2 separate regions of the Homo sapiens genome follow, and region 2 is linked to region 1. Evidence: fine-mapped expression QTL. Tissue or cell type: whole blood. Region 1 holds a variant in brackets; the other region holds the start of a gene. All regions are shown on one strand. Distances are between the middles of the regions.

Region 1 (8,253 bases):
AAATAAGAGATATAAAAACTATCAGATGAGCATTTACTCAAGGAGATGGCAATTTTTTAAAATAAGTCAGAATGTCATTATTCATAGCCTGGTTCCCATATTCTTCTTAGAATTAATATATGCAAGAGAGATGTACTTGATTCTTAAGATTCAACAGAGCATTTACCTGAACTAGTCACAAAACAAAAAAGGTGTTAACAAATTTATGAAAATATGTATCTATATATATCTTTGATACAAATTGATATTTAGATTTTTACAACATCTTTGCAATACAAATGCCAGCTTTAGGTCCTTTATCTGAAATTTCATTGACAAATAATGGCGAGAGCCAACTCCAACTGCTTTGTTTACTGTTTCTATAGAATAATGTTCACTCTAATCAGACTATTCTAGTTGCCATTCCTGAACATTCCCACCTCAGCTTTCCCCGGCTCCCTTGCCTAGTTCTTCTCCCTATGTAAATCCCATCTATCCTACCAGATCTAATTCTCCCTATAAGGCCTTTTGAGGTCATTCAAGCTTTCATTCATCTCTCCCTCCTCCAAGTTCGTAACATGTATGGGACAGTAAGACAGAGTCTCATTCTGTCGCCCGGGCTGGAGTGCAGTGGCACAATCTCGGCTCACCGCAAACCCCACCTCCAGGGTTCAAGTGATTATCCTGCCTTAGCCTCCCAAGTGGCTGGGATTACAAGCGTGCACCACCACACCCAGCTAATTTTTGTATTTTTAGTAGAGACAGGGTTTCACCATGTTGGTCAGGCTGGTCTTGAACTCCTGACCTCAAGTGATCCACCTGCCTCGGCCTCCCAAAGTGCTGGGATTACAGGTGTGAGCCACCGTGCCCAGCTGTGAGCTCTTTAATAAGATTTTAAAGGGACATCAAAGATGGAGGAAGAGATAAATGACCAAAAGAAAGTGGTTCAGAACCATAAAAAAATAGGAAAGCTAAAGCCAAAAAGAGCAGAGACTAGCCAAAAGATGTTTTGTTATGTTGAAAGCAGGAAGAAGGAAGGACTTTATCCACTGTCTTTAGAGAAATGGGTAAAAGAAAAAGAATGCTTCAATTATTTTTTAGTGTCAATTTCCTTTTTCAAAGAGGCTGCTCTTTAAACTGGAAAGGGTAGAACATGATTAAAAGGAAATTCCAGCCTAAGACACACATGGATATAATAAAAGTCACTTGAATGAGTTTAAATGTTCAAGCCTAGAGGAATTACCCTCCAGGACACAGAAAGCACTTGGAAGACATTAACTCAGAACCACTTACTACATCCTAGATGAAGTCTGGACAACTGGGGATGTATCAGAAAATCAGAGTGCAACAAAGAGTTAAAAAATATCCCCCATGGCTGGGCATGGTGGCTCACACCTGTACTCCCAGCACTTTGGGAGGCCGAGGTAGGTGGATCACTGGAGACCAGGAGTTTGAGACCAGCCTGGGCAACATAGTGAGGCCCCATCTCTACTAAAAATAGCAAAAAATTAGCCAGGCGTGGTGGTGGGCACCCATAACCCCAGCTACTTGGGAGGCTGAGGCAGGAGAACTGCTTGAATCTGGGAGGCAGAGGTTGAAGTGAGCCGAGATTGCGCCACTGCACTCCAGCCTGGGTGATGGAGCCAGGCTTTGCAAAAAAAAAAAAAAAAATCCCCCAAATGGTACATAAATAACAAAAACTACAGACCATTAAGCCTAACAGAAAATTCCTCAATGTATTAACAAATGAATAGTTTGTGCAGACAGGAGTGATGATTAGAAACAAGCAAAGGATGGCTGGGCGTGGTGGCTCACGCCTGTAATCCCAGCACTTTGGGAGGCTGAGGTGGGCGGATCATGAGGTCAGGAGATCGAGACCATCCTGGCTAACACGGTGAAACTCCGTCTCTACTAAAAATACAAAAAAATTAGCCGGGCATGGTGGTGGGTGCCTGTAGTCCCAGCGACTCAGGAGGCTGAGGAAGGAGAATGGCATGAACCCGGGAGGTGGAGCCTGCAGTGAGCCAAGATGGCACCACTGCACTCCAGCCTGGGCAACAGAGCAAAACTCCATCTCAAAAAAAAAAAAAAAAAAAAAGGGTAACTGGAATAGTCTATTCTTATTCTCTTTTCTGCTAAAATTGCTAGATGACATAATAGATAAGCAAATAAAATGAAATGTAAATAGAAAATTGTCCACAAAATAGAGAACTAACTTTTCCTACAGTGTGTTTCACAGTACACTACTCCCTTTAATTGTCCCTTGAAAAATAGTTCTATGGCCAAACAAGCTTTGGAAATACTATATTTATATGTCGTTCTCCCTTGAAAAGTGACACGAGGACACTAAATGCCTCGGCCAGGGAACTACTATAAAGACCTACTGAGCCACAGGAAGCCAAACTTTTTTGCCTTTTTAAACAACAGAGCCTTTTTTTTGGAGGTGAGGGAGGCAGTTATTACCCTTTATTATCCAAAAGTATGTGGAATACTTTGGGAATGGTGTTTTAGGCAGTGTATCTTGATTTTAGGAAGGCATTTTAAAGTAGTCTCTTGGATACACTATGAAACTTGCTGGAGAATCATAGACTGAAAATGCCAATTAAATGAGGTGTAGGTGGCTGGCTTGGAAATAAAACAATGCTAATCAAAGCCCGGTGCTTTCTACAGGCAGATGAAATTTGTGAGATGACATAATGAAGCACAACATAATAACTGAAAATCTGTGCTATGACGCCAGACTACCTGGGTTCAAATGCTGGCTCTGCTACATACCAGCTCTGTGTGCGCAAATTGCTTAAACCTTCTGACCTTAATTTCCTCATTTATAAATGAGACTAATACATGTCCCAGAAAGTTAGGAAGGTTAAATAAGTCAATATATCAAAGCATATATTAAGCGCTCAATAAAGTTACCTATGATAATTGTTAATATACTCTGAGGACTAAGTTAAAAAAAAAACTTTTGAGATTCCTCTCTGTCACCCTGGCTGCAGTGCAGCTGGCGTGACTACAGCTCACTGCCGCCTCAACCTCCCGGGGTCAAGTGATCCTTTCACCTCAGCCTCCTGAGTAGCTAGGACCACAGGTGCACACCACCATGCCTGGCTAATTTTTAAAATTTTTTGTAGAGATGCGGTCTCTCTCTGTTGCCCAGGCTGGTCTTTAACTCCTGGGCTCAAGCGATCCTCCGGCCTTGGCCTTCCAAAGTGTTGGGATTACAGGTGTGAGCCACAGCACTCAGCCTTAAGTAAATGTTAATAAGATATTTAATGCTAATAAAAGTATGCAAAAATGCAAGGTAGACATAAAGTTGTGTACCAAATGAAAGGTAGATATAAAATTGTTCATCAAATCCTTTAATACTGTGAACTAAGCAATACTCCTTAGAATAGGTTAAATTTGCTACAAATAAAAGCTACTGTAGAAGTAAACTCACAGGATTGGTAACCCAAAGCAGCAGCACGGGATGAAATAAAGGAAGCTTAAGCAACCCTTGGTCCTACTCATTGTGGGAAGAATTCTTGACAGGATGGAGAGCAGTACAGATCTTGACTGGTAGGAAAAAGTCTTAGGGTTTTGTGTAGCAATTTCTGACATATGTTTCAACTAGACTACTGAACCTCCCTCCAACTCTCCCTATCACAAAACTGTTAACAAATCAAGTATTCAGATGCCCAAGGAGTATACTTAAAAAGTCCAGCTCCCAGAGGCCTGCCCGCAGCCAATCATTTAATTGTACACCATCCAGTTTCCAGTTGACCACTATTAGGTTGGTGCAAAAGTAATTGCGGTTTTCACCATCACTTTTAATGGCAAATACTTTTAATACTAACTGTTAGGCATTTTGTAAGCACCTGACAAAAATTCACTTGAAGCTTTTAGACAGTAAGCTTCTTGAGGACAGGTAATAGAGTCCAAAGACAGGCAACAGTTATTTAACTTAATGTAGCAGATGAAGTTAATACTTTCTAAGGCTCCTAACAATTGATGCACAATACAATTCGGTACACAAATATTATCAGAATTTGGAACTATACACAAATGTCTCACTAGATGAGTCACTAAATCAGTAGTCCAATGGGAAAAACAATTCTGACATTCTTAAATCACTATTTCATTGCTTTTCAGATTTATACTGTCCACCTTTATATCATACAATCTTATAAAACAGCTGATAATTAATGTCTGAACTATTACATAACTGCAGATTTTCCTGCAAATTCATAATCTAAATAACAGAATTATAGAGCAAAAGCTTCAAAGGTGTTTAGTACCTAGCTTTCTAACAGTGCTACACTAAAACTGTCATCTGCGCTGCAGACTGTCCACCATTTAGGTTAGCGCGAAGGCATGCTGCACGGCACCGAGCAGATTTAAATCCACAGACTGCCAATGGGTGGAGTCATCAAAGTGCTGACACAGACTTCTTTACATTCCTACCGTCACACCAGTTTTAACCCACAGAGGGCTCTTGTAG[A/GGTCA]ACTGCAGGGTCAACTCAGCATTCATTCACTTCAATCAGTCTAAAAAGACTGCTAAATGACTGATGGTTTATGTGATGTGCATATTAAAAAAAAAACAACAGTACAGAAGGGGAAGATGTTACTAATTAATTTCATAGAAGCCATTTGTCAACTATAAGAGAGCTATATAAGGATTTCCTGTTACTAGTTAGCAGTTGTGGTAAATGTTAACTGAGGCAAAATGACAGTCAAAATTTTATCAGAATACTCATGTCCACAACCACGACATTAATCCAGACTCCTACTCCTTCATACCTGTATAACTGCATTATATTTTCTTTCTTTTTTTTTGAGACGGAGTCTGGCTCTGTCGCCCAGGCTGGAGTACAGTGGCGCAATCTTGGCTCATAGCAAGCTCCGCCTCCCGGATTCACGCCATTCTCCTGCCTCAGCCTCCCAGTAGCTAGGACTACAGGCGCCCGCCACCACGCCCGGCTAATTTTTTGTATTTTTAGTAGAAACGGGGTTTCACTGTGTTAGCCAGGATGGTCTCGATCTCCTGACCTCGTGATCCGCTCGCCTCGGCCTCCCAAAGTGCTGGGATTACAGGCGTGAGCCACCGCGCCCGGCCCAACTCATTATATTTTCACCTTGAGCATTTACAGCGTGCCAAGAACTGGGCCAAGTGATTATGTGTGTTTAATCTTCCAAAAAACCTAAACAACGCTTCATTATCCCCCTTTTATAGATAGGCCTATCTTGTGCCAAAGCCCAGTCTCTTCACTTTTATTTTACACTGATCACAACAATCATCTTCTTGCCTCTATCCAGTAATGTTCCTGAACCACAGCAGGTCACTCTATGCTAATGAAACTGTAACAGCATCTTAAAGACTTCCTAGATTGAAGCCAACTTCCTCATACCGACCTTCCAAGTCCACAAACTGGTCTCATCTTACTTTCTCGGACTCTCTAGAAGACCTACTTGAGCTCATGTACTGATCCGTCATTATACAAACAATAATTAATTATGTTCATGACTTAAACGTGTATGCACATGGGATGAATGCCTCATTCCTGCCGCCTGGAATGCCCTTTCCTTCCTTCCTCTTACAAACCAAACACTACCTTCTTTAGGACTGCTGCAGATTCACCACCAGATGACCTGCCCCATAAGTCTCTCCCCTTACTACTCCCTCCTTTCTTTACATTCTCTCTGCTAAGGTATTCGATGTCTACTATACTGACATACATACTTTCCTTGAGTTGCTGTGCGGATGAACATCCTTGGAAACAGTTAAATTCCTTTACAGCAGAAGATACACCTTTTAAATCACCTTTCTTCTGCCTCCCTCCTTTTGTATTTCTCAATTTCATAGGGTTGCATCTGTCTATCTGATTTGTTTACACTTGAACAAATGTGTTCATATCTTCTTCAAGAAGATCTTAGAGGAAGCTTAGTCATACAAGCTGACTAACAATCTAACAACAGAAAGATGTTTGAAACTTGAATTAAGTATGCTACAAAGTGATGAGGGTTATCTGCACCCTACCTATAGCTAATGACTCATATTTTCAATGGTTTTCCAAAATAAGAGTTTACGAACACATAAACATGTTCTCTATGTGCGGATACACATCTTTACAGTGCTTATCACTACCTGACAGGACCTTATCATTTGTGCTTGACTTGCCAAAGAATGTAAGCTTCATGAGGGCAGGGGTTCTGTTTTGTACACTGCTTTATTTCCAGAACATGGGGCAGCACCAAGCAGAATGGTATTCAAATATCTATTGAATGTATGAATATACACTGACAGTTCACATGTAAGCGTACACCTCTATCAAGGATATATGGAAAGTTTTTACACCTCTAAGCAACTAAAAGGAACGCTATGGCTTACTACTTGACCTTGCGCTTGAAGTTTAAGATAGGTAGTTGTTTCGAATCTTTATTTTCATTCAACATCCCAAAGATGTTTAGCTAGTAAAGAAAAACTAAAGTACAAACCCCGAGATCCAGTATTTACCCGTTTGCCCAAGGAGAGGCGAGGACCATTCATAATAAAGTCACTGAAACAATTAAGACAATGGATGGGACCAGTTTTTCTTTTCTGAAGCTAAAGAGGCGCGAGAGGAGGACACACACAGTAGACAAAGCCAGCCAAGAACCTCGGAAAGTCGGCCCCAAACAATAGCAGCAACGACAGAGGCAGGCCCCGGGTTGGATCTACAGGGGGTGGAGTCTCAGAAAGCACCATCGAGTAACCCGCTCCATGTGCGGGCCCGACGGAGGGGCGAAGGAGGGGTTCCTGGGACTCAACTCCGGGAAGCCCCCTGGGTGTGTACCTGTGTTTGCGGCGGCGGGTGACCTGGGGAAACAGGGTGCAGACAGCTGCAGAGCTTTTCTTTTTTTTTTTTTAAGCTGTGGTAACCCTGGCTGCTTAATAAATCCCCAGCGCTCGGTGCGAAGAGGGAAATCCCCGGACAGAGTGTGGGATCGGATTCCCCTGGGACGGATGATGCGGCCGCGAGAGGGGGACAGGGGAAGACCCCAGGGATGGCGGGGGATGACTTACTTTGAGGAGACAGCTGTTGAGCGGTGCGGGCACCGAGGTGCGGTGGATAACCAGGTCCTGGCCCGGGTTGTGCACGTCGCAGATGAGCTCCAGCACAGCGATGCTGCGGGCCGTGGACACAGACACGCGGTGGTCCTCGGACCAAGCCAGCGGTTCCAGGCCGCTCACCGCATACTGCAGCTTCACGGCCGGCTCCCGCCGAGTCACCATGAGGCGGAATGCAGCGCTGGGCCCCGGGGCCGCGTCCGCTGCTGGCTCCTTCCCGCCCGCCTCGCCGCCCCCCTCTCCCTCCTCCTCCCCAGACGGCGCAGGCCCGTCGTCCGCGGGCCCCACCCGGGCCTGGTCGGCCGTGTTCATCTTCTCTCAGGTGCAGAGGTCGGACGCCCTGGCGCTCCACGCAGTCGCGCGACCACCTCCCGGACCGCCGCCGCCACCCCCAGCGCCCTCCGCGGCGGTTTTCTCCCCTCAGGCCCCGAGCGCCGCCGAGCCAAGAAGGACCCCGCCGTTGCCAGGCAACGCGGCCCTACCAGGTGGCCAAGGAACTGCCTGTCCAGAAAAAGGACAGCGAGCGGGGAGCCCCGAGGACCCCCTTTTCCCTGCCCAGGGATTGAGCTCCAGAGCCTGTTAGGGAGCTACCCAGACAGGCTTTAGTTCCTAAAGTGCTGAGGAAACGCACGGGGCGGTAAAGGGGAGGCTCGTCGGTGAGATGGCGCCGGATCTCGCTTCTCAGAGGCATTCAGAGAGCTTCCCCAGCGTGAACTCTCGGCCGAATGTAATTTTGCCAGGCCGCGAGGGACGCAGAGAGGGGCTGCCACCAGGCGGGGGCACGCGCGGTAGTCTTGTCCCTACCCGCCCGGTGCCGCCGTCCCCGGCTCCCCTCGGGACGAGTCCGTACAGCTGGAGCCGTTCCGGACCCGGAAGGGGCGGTGGCGCAGGGTCCTCGCGCGTCCCACGTGGGGTCCCGGGCCCAGCAGTCTGCGCACCGGGCTCGCTGCTGCACCACGCGTCACCCACGCAGACCATGGCAGCCGCCGACGGTTCGCTCTTCGACAACCCCAGGACGTTCTCCAGACGTCCCCCAGCCCAGGCGAGTCGGGTGAGTTCTGACCCGGCTTCAGCTCCGTCCCCACCCGCGGCCCGGCTGTGGGCGCGCCGCGAGCTGCAGCCGTGCCTTGGAGTCGGGTTTCGAGTCATTCACGGAGTTAAGCGGGAGAAAGACACCGGGCAGCTTCGGGA
Region 2 (8,000 bases), 810 kb before region 1:
TTCTGGGGAAGAGCTGGCCATGCCCACCTTGTCTGACTGTGGGTCGTAAAAGACCCTCCCTCCGGGGGTTCTACCCCATCCCTGGGGGGAGAAGCACTGCACAGAGAGGCCAAGGGGGATCTGCACAGCTGGCCTCGCCAGCCTCGCAGTCCATCCCCACAGGCATCCCCTGCCGTCCGACACCTGTCCACACGGCTGCCTGTTCTCCACCAACTCTAAGCACAGGGACCATCTTCCCTGGGTCTCTGAGTCTCCACTTCTGACACCTCCCTGTCACATAAAGCTTTGATTAAATAAATCTGGTGTGCTTTTCTCTTGTGAACCTGTCTTTTGTTATAGAACTGTCACCCATGGCCCTGATGATGATGAGACCATCCCTATAAACTTTATAAAATTAATCAAGGAAGAAGAGAGGAGGAGAAATGAGAATAAACCAGGCTTGTAGCACATTCAGCATCCATCGCTAGGTCAACTTGCTCTCTGACCTCAAAGTTTTTTGGTGCCTGTTGCCTTAGAATCACAGAGACTCTGTTACAAGATTGTAGCTCTCCCTCACTGCCCTGTAGATATAGATAACAACTTTAACATTGCAAAGATGTCCTTTTCCTTTTTTTTTTTTGAGACAGAGTTTTGCTCTGATTGCCCAGGCTGAAGTGCAACCGCACGATCTCGGCTCACTGCAACCTCCACTCCTAGATTCATGTGATTCTCTCGCCTCAGCCTCCCAAGCAGCTGGGATTACAGGCTCACGCCACCATGCCTGGCTAATTCTTTGTATTTTTAGTAGAGGCAGGGTTTCACCATGTTGGCCAGGCGCCCAGTCAAAAGTTTCCATTTGAGATGTTCTTTTGGGTCCTGTGTACCAATGAAACTACTGACACCGGCCGGGCGCGGTGGCTCACGCCTGTAATCCCAGCACTTTGGGAGGCTGAGGCATGCAGATCACGAGGTCAGAAGTTCGAGACCAGCCTGGCCAACATAGTGAAAACCCATCTCTACTAAAAATACAAAAATCAGCCAGGTGTGGTGACATGCATCTGTACTCCCAGCTACTCTGGAGGCTGAGGTGGGAGAATCGCTTGAACCCAGAAGGTGAAGGTTGCAGTGAGTGGAGACCATACCACTGCACTCCAGCCTGGGTGACAGAGTGAGACTCTGTCTCAAAAAAAAAAAAAGAAAGAAACTACTGATGACAGCTGGTCTCAAGGACCCCAGGAGGACCTGATTCACCAAAGAATACATTTTCCACCTCCTGATGATTTTACCTCCCATCCCCAGACCTATCAACAACCCACTTCTAAAGCCCATCGCCCTCCATGATCCCCTTAAAAGCCCCAGCCCAAAGCTCCTAGGGGAGATGGATTTGAGGATCTCCTCCCATCTCCTTGCTCAGAGCCCTGCAATCATTAAACTCTTCCCTGCTGCGAACCCTGCTGCACGGTGTACTGGTGTGTCGTGGTGTCACGGTGGAGCAGGCATGTGGATCTGCTGGTCTTGTAACAATGGGTGAGGAAACGGATTCCACCTTTTCTACCCTTACAGTTTGAAACAGCTTTGATGCCCATGACAGAAGATTCATTACAAATTCAAGCTCATCCACCCAGCCTTTAACATTAAAAGGCTGTGAAACAGGGCCGGGTGCAGTGGCTCATGCCTGTAATCCCAGCACTTTGGGAGGCCGAGGCGGGCGGATCACGAGGTCAGGAGATGGAGACCACCCTGGCTAACACGGTGAAACCCCGTCTCTACTAAAAATACAAAAAATTAGCTGGGCGTGGTGGCAGGCGCCTGTAGTCCCAGCTACTCAGGAGGCTGAGGCAGGAGAATGGCGTGAACCCAGGAGGTGGAGCTTGCAGTAAGCTGAGATGGCACCACTGCACTCCAGCCTGGGGGAAAGGGCGAGACTCATCTCAAAAAAAAAAAAAAAAGGCTGTTAAGCAGGGTTCTGTGCAAGAAGGCTCACACCGGCTCATTCTTTTAGCCAAAAACTGTGCTACATCCGTAAAACACTACACTACGCGGCTGCAAATAAGAACAAACCACTGAACATCAGCAAACCACTGATAAATTTCATAAACATGCTGAAAAAAGAAGGCAGACAAAAAAACAGTGCTTCACATAGGTTCTCTTTATAAGACCACTGTAATCTATCGTCACAGGAAGCAGATTAATAGTTTACTGGGGAGGCCGGGCGCGGTGGCTCATGCCTGTAATCCCAGCCCTTTGGGAGGCCGAGGCCGGCAGATCACGAGGTCAGGAGATCAAGACCATCCTGGCTAACATGGTGAAACCCCATCTCTACTAAAAATACAAAAAAATATTAGCCGGGCATGGTGGCGGGCACCTGTGGTCCCAGCTACTCAGGAGGCTGAGGCAGGAGAATGGCATGAACCTGGGAGGCGGAGCTTGCAGTGAGCCGAGATCGCACCACTGCACTCCAGCCTGGGGGACAGAGTGAAACTCCCTCTCAAAAAAAAAAATAGTTTACTGGGGAGCAGGGAAAGGAGGTTGACCTCAGAAAGGCACAAAGAAACCTTCTAGAAGGGTGGAAATGGGCTGGGCGTGATGACTCACGCCTGTAATCCCAGCACTTTGGGAGGCCAAGGCGGGAGGATCACCTGATGTTGGGAGTTTGAGACCAGCCTGGCCAACATGGTGAAACCCCATCTCTACCAAAAATGCAAAAACTACCCAGGTGTGGTGGCGGGCGCCTGTAATCCCAGCTACTCGGGAGGCTGAGGCAGGAGAATCGCTTGAACCCAGTGGTCGGAGGTTGCAGTGAGCCGAGATCGCACTACTGCACTCCAGCCTGGGCAACAGAGAGAGACTCTGTCTCAAAAAAAGATAAAAGAAAGAAAGAAAAGGTGGAAATGTTTTATATCTTGATTGGGGGTGTTTGGGGTTATACAATTGTCAAAACTCATCAACCTATATTTAAAATGGATTCATTTTACTGTATATAAATTATAGCTTAACAAAGTTGATTTTTCTTGTATTTTATTTTTTCAAGAAGGCTCTCCCTCTGTCACCCAGGCTGGAGTGCTGTGGTGTGATCACAGCTCACCGCAGCCTCAAACTCCTGGGCTCAAGCAATCTTCCCACCTCTGCCTTCCGAGTAGCTGGGGCCACAGGCACTTGCCATCACACCTGGACAACTTTTTTAGCTTTTTGTAGAGACAGGGTCACTTTGTTGCCCAGGCTGGTGTCAGACTCCTGGCATCAAGCAATTCTCCTACCTTGGCCTCCTAAATGCTGGGATTACAGGCACACACCACTGCACCTGGCCTAAAGTTGATTTTAAAAGAAAAAAAATACATTTTAAAAAAAGAGAAGGCCGGGTGCGGTGACTCACGCCTGTAATCCCAGCACTTTGTGAGGCTGAAGCGGAAGGATCACAAGGTCAGGAGTTCAAGACCAAGCTGGCCAACATGGTGAAACCCCGTCTCCACTAAAAATACAAAAATTAGCCGGGCGTGGTGGCACATGCCTGTAATCCCAGCTACTTGGGAGGCTGAGGCAGGAGAATCGCTTGAACTCGGGAGGTGGAAGTTGCAGTAAGCTGAGATCGTGCCACTGCACTCCAGCCTGGCCAACAGAGCGAGACTCCGTCTCAAAAAAAAAAAAAAAAATACACATATAGATATGTAAAAATACATACACATATATATGTATATACGTATATATATGGCCACGAGGACTGTGCAGCCTGATCACCATACCAGGGTGTGCCTGAGTCCAAAGCCTATGATCTTGATGGCAAGAAAACGGTGACGTAAAGGGGCTGCACAGTTTAATGGGGGCCCCAATAGCAAATATGCAAAATAGGCACATGAGGAAAAGACTGGAAGAGGCTAAAACGCCATCAAGGTCAGGCTGACGGGAGATGGATGTGATTTTATTGTTCTATTATGGTTGTATTTCAATCATAATAAAAGGGAATTCTAACTTTTAAAAATGCTTTACCATGTTAATAGCTAAAATGGGAAATGACCCAAATACTCAGCAACAAAGGCTCCGTTTAAAAGCGTGTGTGGCACGTCCATCCAACAGAGCAGGGCGTGATTCCGTCCTCTTCCCGAAAAGGCCCAAAGGGAGAGGTGGAACTGCTGTGGGATTTTTTGAGGACGGTCTTCCCGGGAATTTTCCATTTCTGCTTTTCTTATTTTTCAATGTTATCTTACTACCTGGGTTACGTGTCACGAGCTCAGGTTATTTCTACCACCAGAGCCTGGGGTGGAGGATACAGACCTCGCCCACTGGAGCTGCCCACAGCGCCTCGCCGGCCCCTCCTGCCTCCTTCGTCCCGCACATCCGCTGCTGCCCTGACACACCCCGATTCCCTGGTGCCAGGGAGAGCCAGGGCAGAGGTGGCCCTGAGACGCCACGCGACGGGGAGGGCTAGAGCGTAAGGAGGAGCGAGGTGCGCATTCGCTGTGACCCTGGCGCTCGGCTTCGCCTCTCTGGGCCTCGGTTTCCACCCCGCGGGAGCGAGTACGACAGGGGCTGCGCGCATTGCCGCAGTCACGCCTGCAAGAGCCGGGCCGGGTGAGCCGCTTCCGGCGCTCCGCGGGGGCCCCGGACGATCCAGCAGGGGCTCCGCCCTGGGACCCCCATCCTGTCTTGGGGCGTGACCTTCGGGGGCGCACGCGGTGCCGGCCGCGCCCGGGGAAGCCGGGTCCGCATCCGAGCATCAGGACAGCCTGCGGCCGCCCCATTGGCCGGCGTGTCTCTGCAGGGCCGTCCCACAGCCAATAGCGGCCAAGGGGCGGAGCCTGGCCGGTGCCCTCGGAGCTGCTGGCCCCGGGCGGCTGCTCCAGTCTGAGCGCCCTCCGCTCGCCCCGAGAGAGACCCGGCCATGCAGGAGCCGCTGCTGGGAGCCGAGGGCCCGGACTACGACACCTTCCCCGAGAAGCCGCCCCCGTCGCCAGGGGACAGGGCGCGGGTCGGGTGAGAGTCGCTAGGTTGGGGGCTGCGGGTGGGGCCTGGGGGTGGCCCTGGTTCCCTCCAGCCGGCGGCAGGCTCCCGCCCTGGGCCTCCCCTGACCTAGTCGCCACCGAGGGGCCATCTGGCTCCCTCCTGTCCCAGACACGCTACTCCTATTTAAGGAACTGGTCCCCCTAAGGGAAGGAACGATCCACGAGAGTACCGGGCCCAGCCCCCCACTGCCACAGACAGTGAGACTGAGGCCCCAGCGAGCAGGGGTTCTGCCTGAGGTCACACAGCAAGCCTCCAGCCGCCGCCCTGGGGGCAGAACCAGAGCCTCCTCTTCCGGAGAAAAGGCCCCAGCACCAGAGGCTCAGCCACTGCGGATGAGCTAACAATGGCCTGGGAATTTCCCAGGGGAGCTGGGGCTCAGGCCCTGGGAACGTGAATGGCCTTGGACCCAGGCCTCCCTAGCACTGCCCGCTGAGCCGGGCAGCCACTGGGTTCAGAAAAGGCAATGGTCCCTGGAGGAGGGACTCAGAGACCCTGGTCTTTTTGTCCGCCACCATCACCAGGACCCTGCAGAACAAAAGGGTGTTCCTGGCCACCTTCGCCGCAGTGCTCGGCAATTTCAGCTTTGGGTATGCCCTGGTCTACACATCCCCTGTCATCCCAGCCCTGGAGCGCTCCTTGGATCCTGACCTGCATCTGACCAAATCCCAGGCATCCTGGTTTGGGGTAAGGACCATCCTCTGGAGGAGGGTGGGTGCAGGAAGGAGGGACCTGCTGAGCCTTATCTCCAGCTAGGAACCTCCCAAATTCTCCACCTTGGGGGTCCCTCCAGGGCCCTGGTCCCCCCTCCCCCAGCCATCCAGGCCACTAGTGGGTGGGGTAAAGCTACAGGATTCCTCTGAAATGAGGAACTGAAAGCCAGTGGAGAGGGTGAGGGAAGGAGCAGGTGGGGAGGTGGCTGTCAGGGTCTATACTAGGTGGGGCTGAGGCTTCCCCGGGTCCCCACACCCACAGTTGGCTGGATGGGGGCAAGGGTATCAGGTGTCAGTGGGGAGAGGCACTGGCTGGGGCAAGGAGAGTCCGCAGGACAGATTGTGGGCTGATGGAGAGGAAGATCCCAGAGTCCCAGAGTCTAAAATTATAATCTTAATAGCCTCATATGTAGAGTTGTTAACATAGTAGTTAAGATAAAAATTCCCAAGGTTTACTGAGCACTTCCTATGTGCCAGGCATGTGTTGGGCACTGAACGTTCATTGATTCTCAGGGCCAACGCCACGAGGTAGAACTTGCGCTCTCCCCATAAGACAGCTGAAGAAACTGAGGTGCAGACAGGCTGGGCAATGTGCCCAGGTCCCACTACCAGTTAGCAGAGTCCAGAGGGGGTCCCAGTTGCTGCTGTACAGGGAACTTAAGAACCTCCAAATCTTAAAGCCCAGTACCTTCAAGTCACAGAATTCTCCTGTATTAAAATATTAGACATTTAAACATCAGGCTGGACAGAACCACTGTGGATATGTGGCGCAGCACCTCTTCCTTAGAGCAGAATTCCCCGTTTGGGCATCCCTAACAAATGGCTGTTCCTTGAAGACAGGAGGCTCCCTGTTTCAAGTGCTTGACTTGGCCAAGTGCTTGACCAGCTCCTGGGGTCGGCCTAGGGAAGAAGCTGTCCCTGGACTCTGATGAGATTGGGGTGCCAAGTGCCCAGACATATCTGCCCTGCACCCCCTTCCCCTGCAGTCCGTGTTCACCCTGGGAGCAGCGGCCGGAGGCCTGAGTGCCATGATCCTCAACGACCTCCTGGGCCGGAAGCTGAGCATCATGTTCTCAGCTGTGCCGTCGGCGGCCGGCTATGCGCTCATGGCGGGTGCGCACGGCCTCTGGATGCTGCTGCTCGGAAGGACGCTGACGGGCTTCGCCGGGGGGCTCACAGCTGCCTGCATCCCGGTAAGGCCAGGCCTTCCCACCCAGGCGCCCCAATGCCTCTGTATTGGTGCTGAGCCTCCATCTGACTAAGGCCTCCCAGCCTCCATGCCTTCTGGGCAATGAGAATTGTTTGCCTTCCCTGCGGATGCCCAGGGCGCCTCAGCTCACCCCCAGCAGGGCAGCTAATTTGGGGGAAATTGTCTCCAGGTCCCCAGCTGCCCCCACTCTGGACTTTCCAAGCCTTCTACCCCGTTTCTTGACCGGTCAGATGTATTACTCAATTGGAGAAAATCCGCATTGAGCAATGGGTAGGAGAGGGAAGTCCCTGCCCTACACCCTCCCCGGGACCTTCTTATCTTATGTGGTACTCCACACGGGGCCTGGTGGTGAGCCCAGCAGAGGAGACAAAACTCACTGGGAGGCATGGACTCACCTGCTCAGCCCTGAAGCCTGGGAGCCCTCGGGCCTCCTTCCCAGCGTCATGCTGCCCATTTCCGAGCTGCGTACTTCCACCCACGTCACAGTTAGGGAAACTGAGGACAGAGAGAGATCAGGCAGGCCGCCCAAGGTCTTGCAGTGAGTCATGACCAGGACTCAGCCCCACCAGAAAGCCTCCACTTCCCACTTTCCGGGGTTCACAGGGGCTGACTCTCCCATCTCGGCCGGGCCTAGGAACCAGTATTTTCAGCAAAACCTGGTGCGGCGGCTGTGTCTTGCAGGTGTACGTGTCTGAGATTGCTCCCCCAGGCGTTCGTGGGGCTCTGGGGGCCACACCCCAGCTCATGGCAGTGTTCGGATCCCTGTCCCTCTACGCCCTTGGCAAGTATGGCCCCGCACTCCTGTGTGCAGGCTGGTGGGAGGGGTGGGTGCCGCCAAGGTAGACGTGGGTGGAAAGGGAATGATTTGTCCCAGAACAGATCCTGGGCTGAGAGGCAAGAGATCTGGCATCCCGGCCCCACTCAGTCAGCACCTTGCTGGGCACCTCCAGGCAGGGCCTGCCCCTCTAGCCACAGGCCCAGTCTCTAGCTGGGGCAGCCAGGGCTTCTCCTGGACCCACAGTCGCCAGACTATCTTTTAACGGCAGAAAGCTTCCATCAAATGCCATCTCAGATGGGAAGTCCAGATAGAAAAGAAATCACAG

Evidence for each region. PIP is the estimated chance that this variant, and not a neighbour inherited with it, causes the effect.
Region 2: it holds the start of SLC2A6, and the variant in region 1 is fine-mapped to the expression of SLC2A6 in whole blood (INTERVAL, PIP above 0.99).

The regions. Positions count from the first base shown.
Region 1 is chr9:132,669,720-132,677,972 of GRCh38, reverse strand. It overlaps DDX31 (DEAD-box helicase 31), which reads left to right and starts at 7,990. Exons shown (of 20, transcript NM_022779.9): 1 at 7,990-8,113. The coding sequence starts at 8,039. GTF3C4 (general transcription factor IIIC subunit 4) reads right to left here and starts at 7,509. Exons shown (of 5, transcript NM_012204.4): 1 at 7,018-7,509. The coding sequence starts at 7,374. RefSeq lists enhancers at 4,357-4,406, 7,501-7,580, 7,266-8,133 and silencers at 7,221-7,350, 7,771-7,920. The variant A/GGTCA (reference allele first, on the strand shown) is at 4,460.
Region 2 is chr9:133,475,915-133,483,914 of GRCh38, reverse strand. It overlaps SLC2A6 (solute carrier family 2 member 6), which reads left to right and starts at 4,816. Exons shown (of 10, transcript NM_017585.4): 1 at 4,816-4,947; 2 at 5,499-5,661; 3 at 6,674-6,880; 4 at 7,579-7,678. The coding sequence starts at 4,856. RefSeq lists enhancers at 4,305-4,806, 5,227-5,286 and a silencer at 4,417-5,066.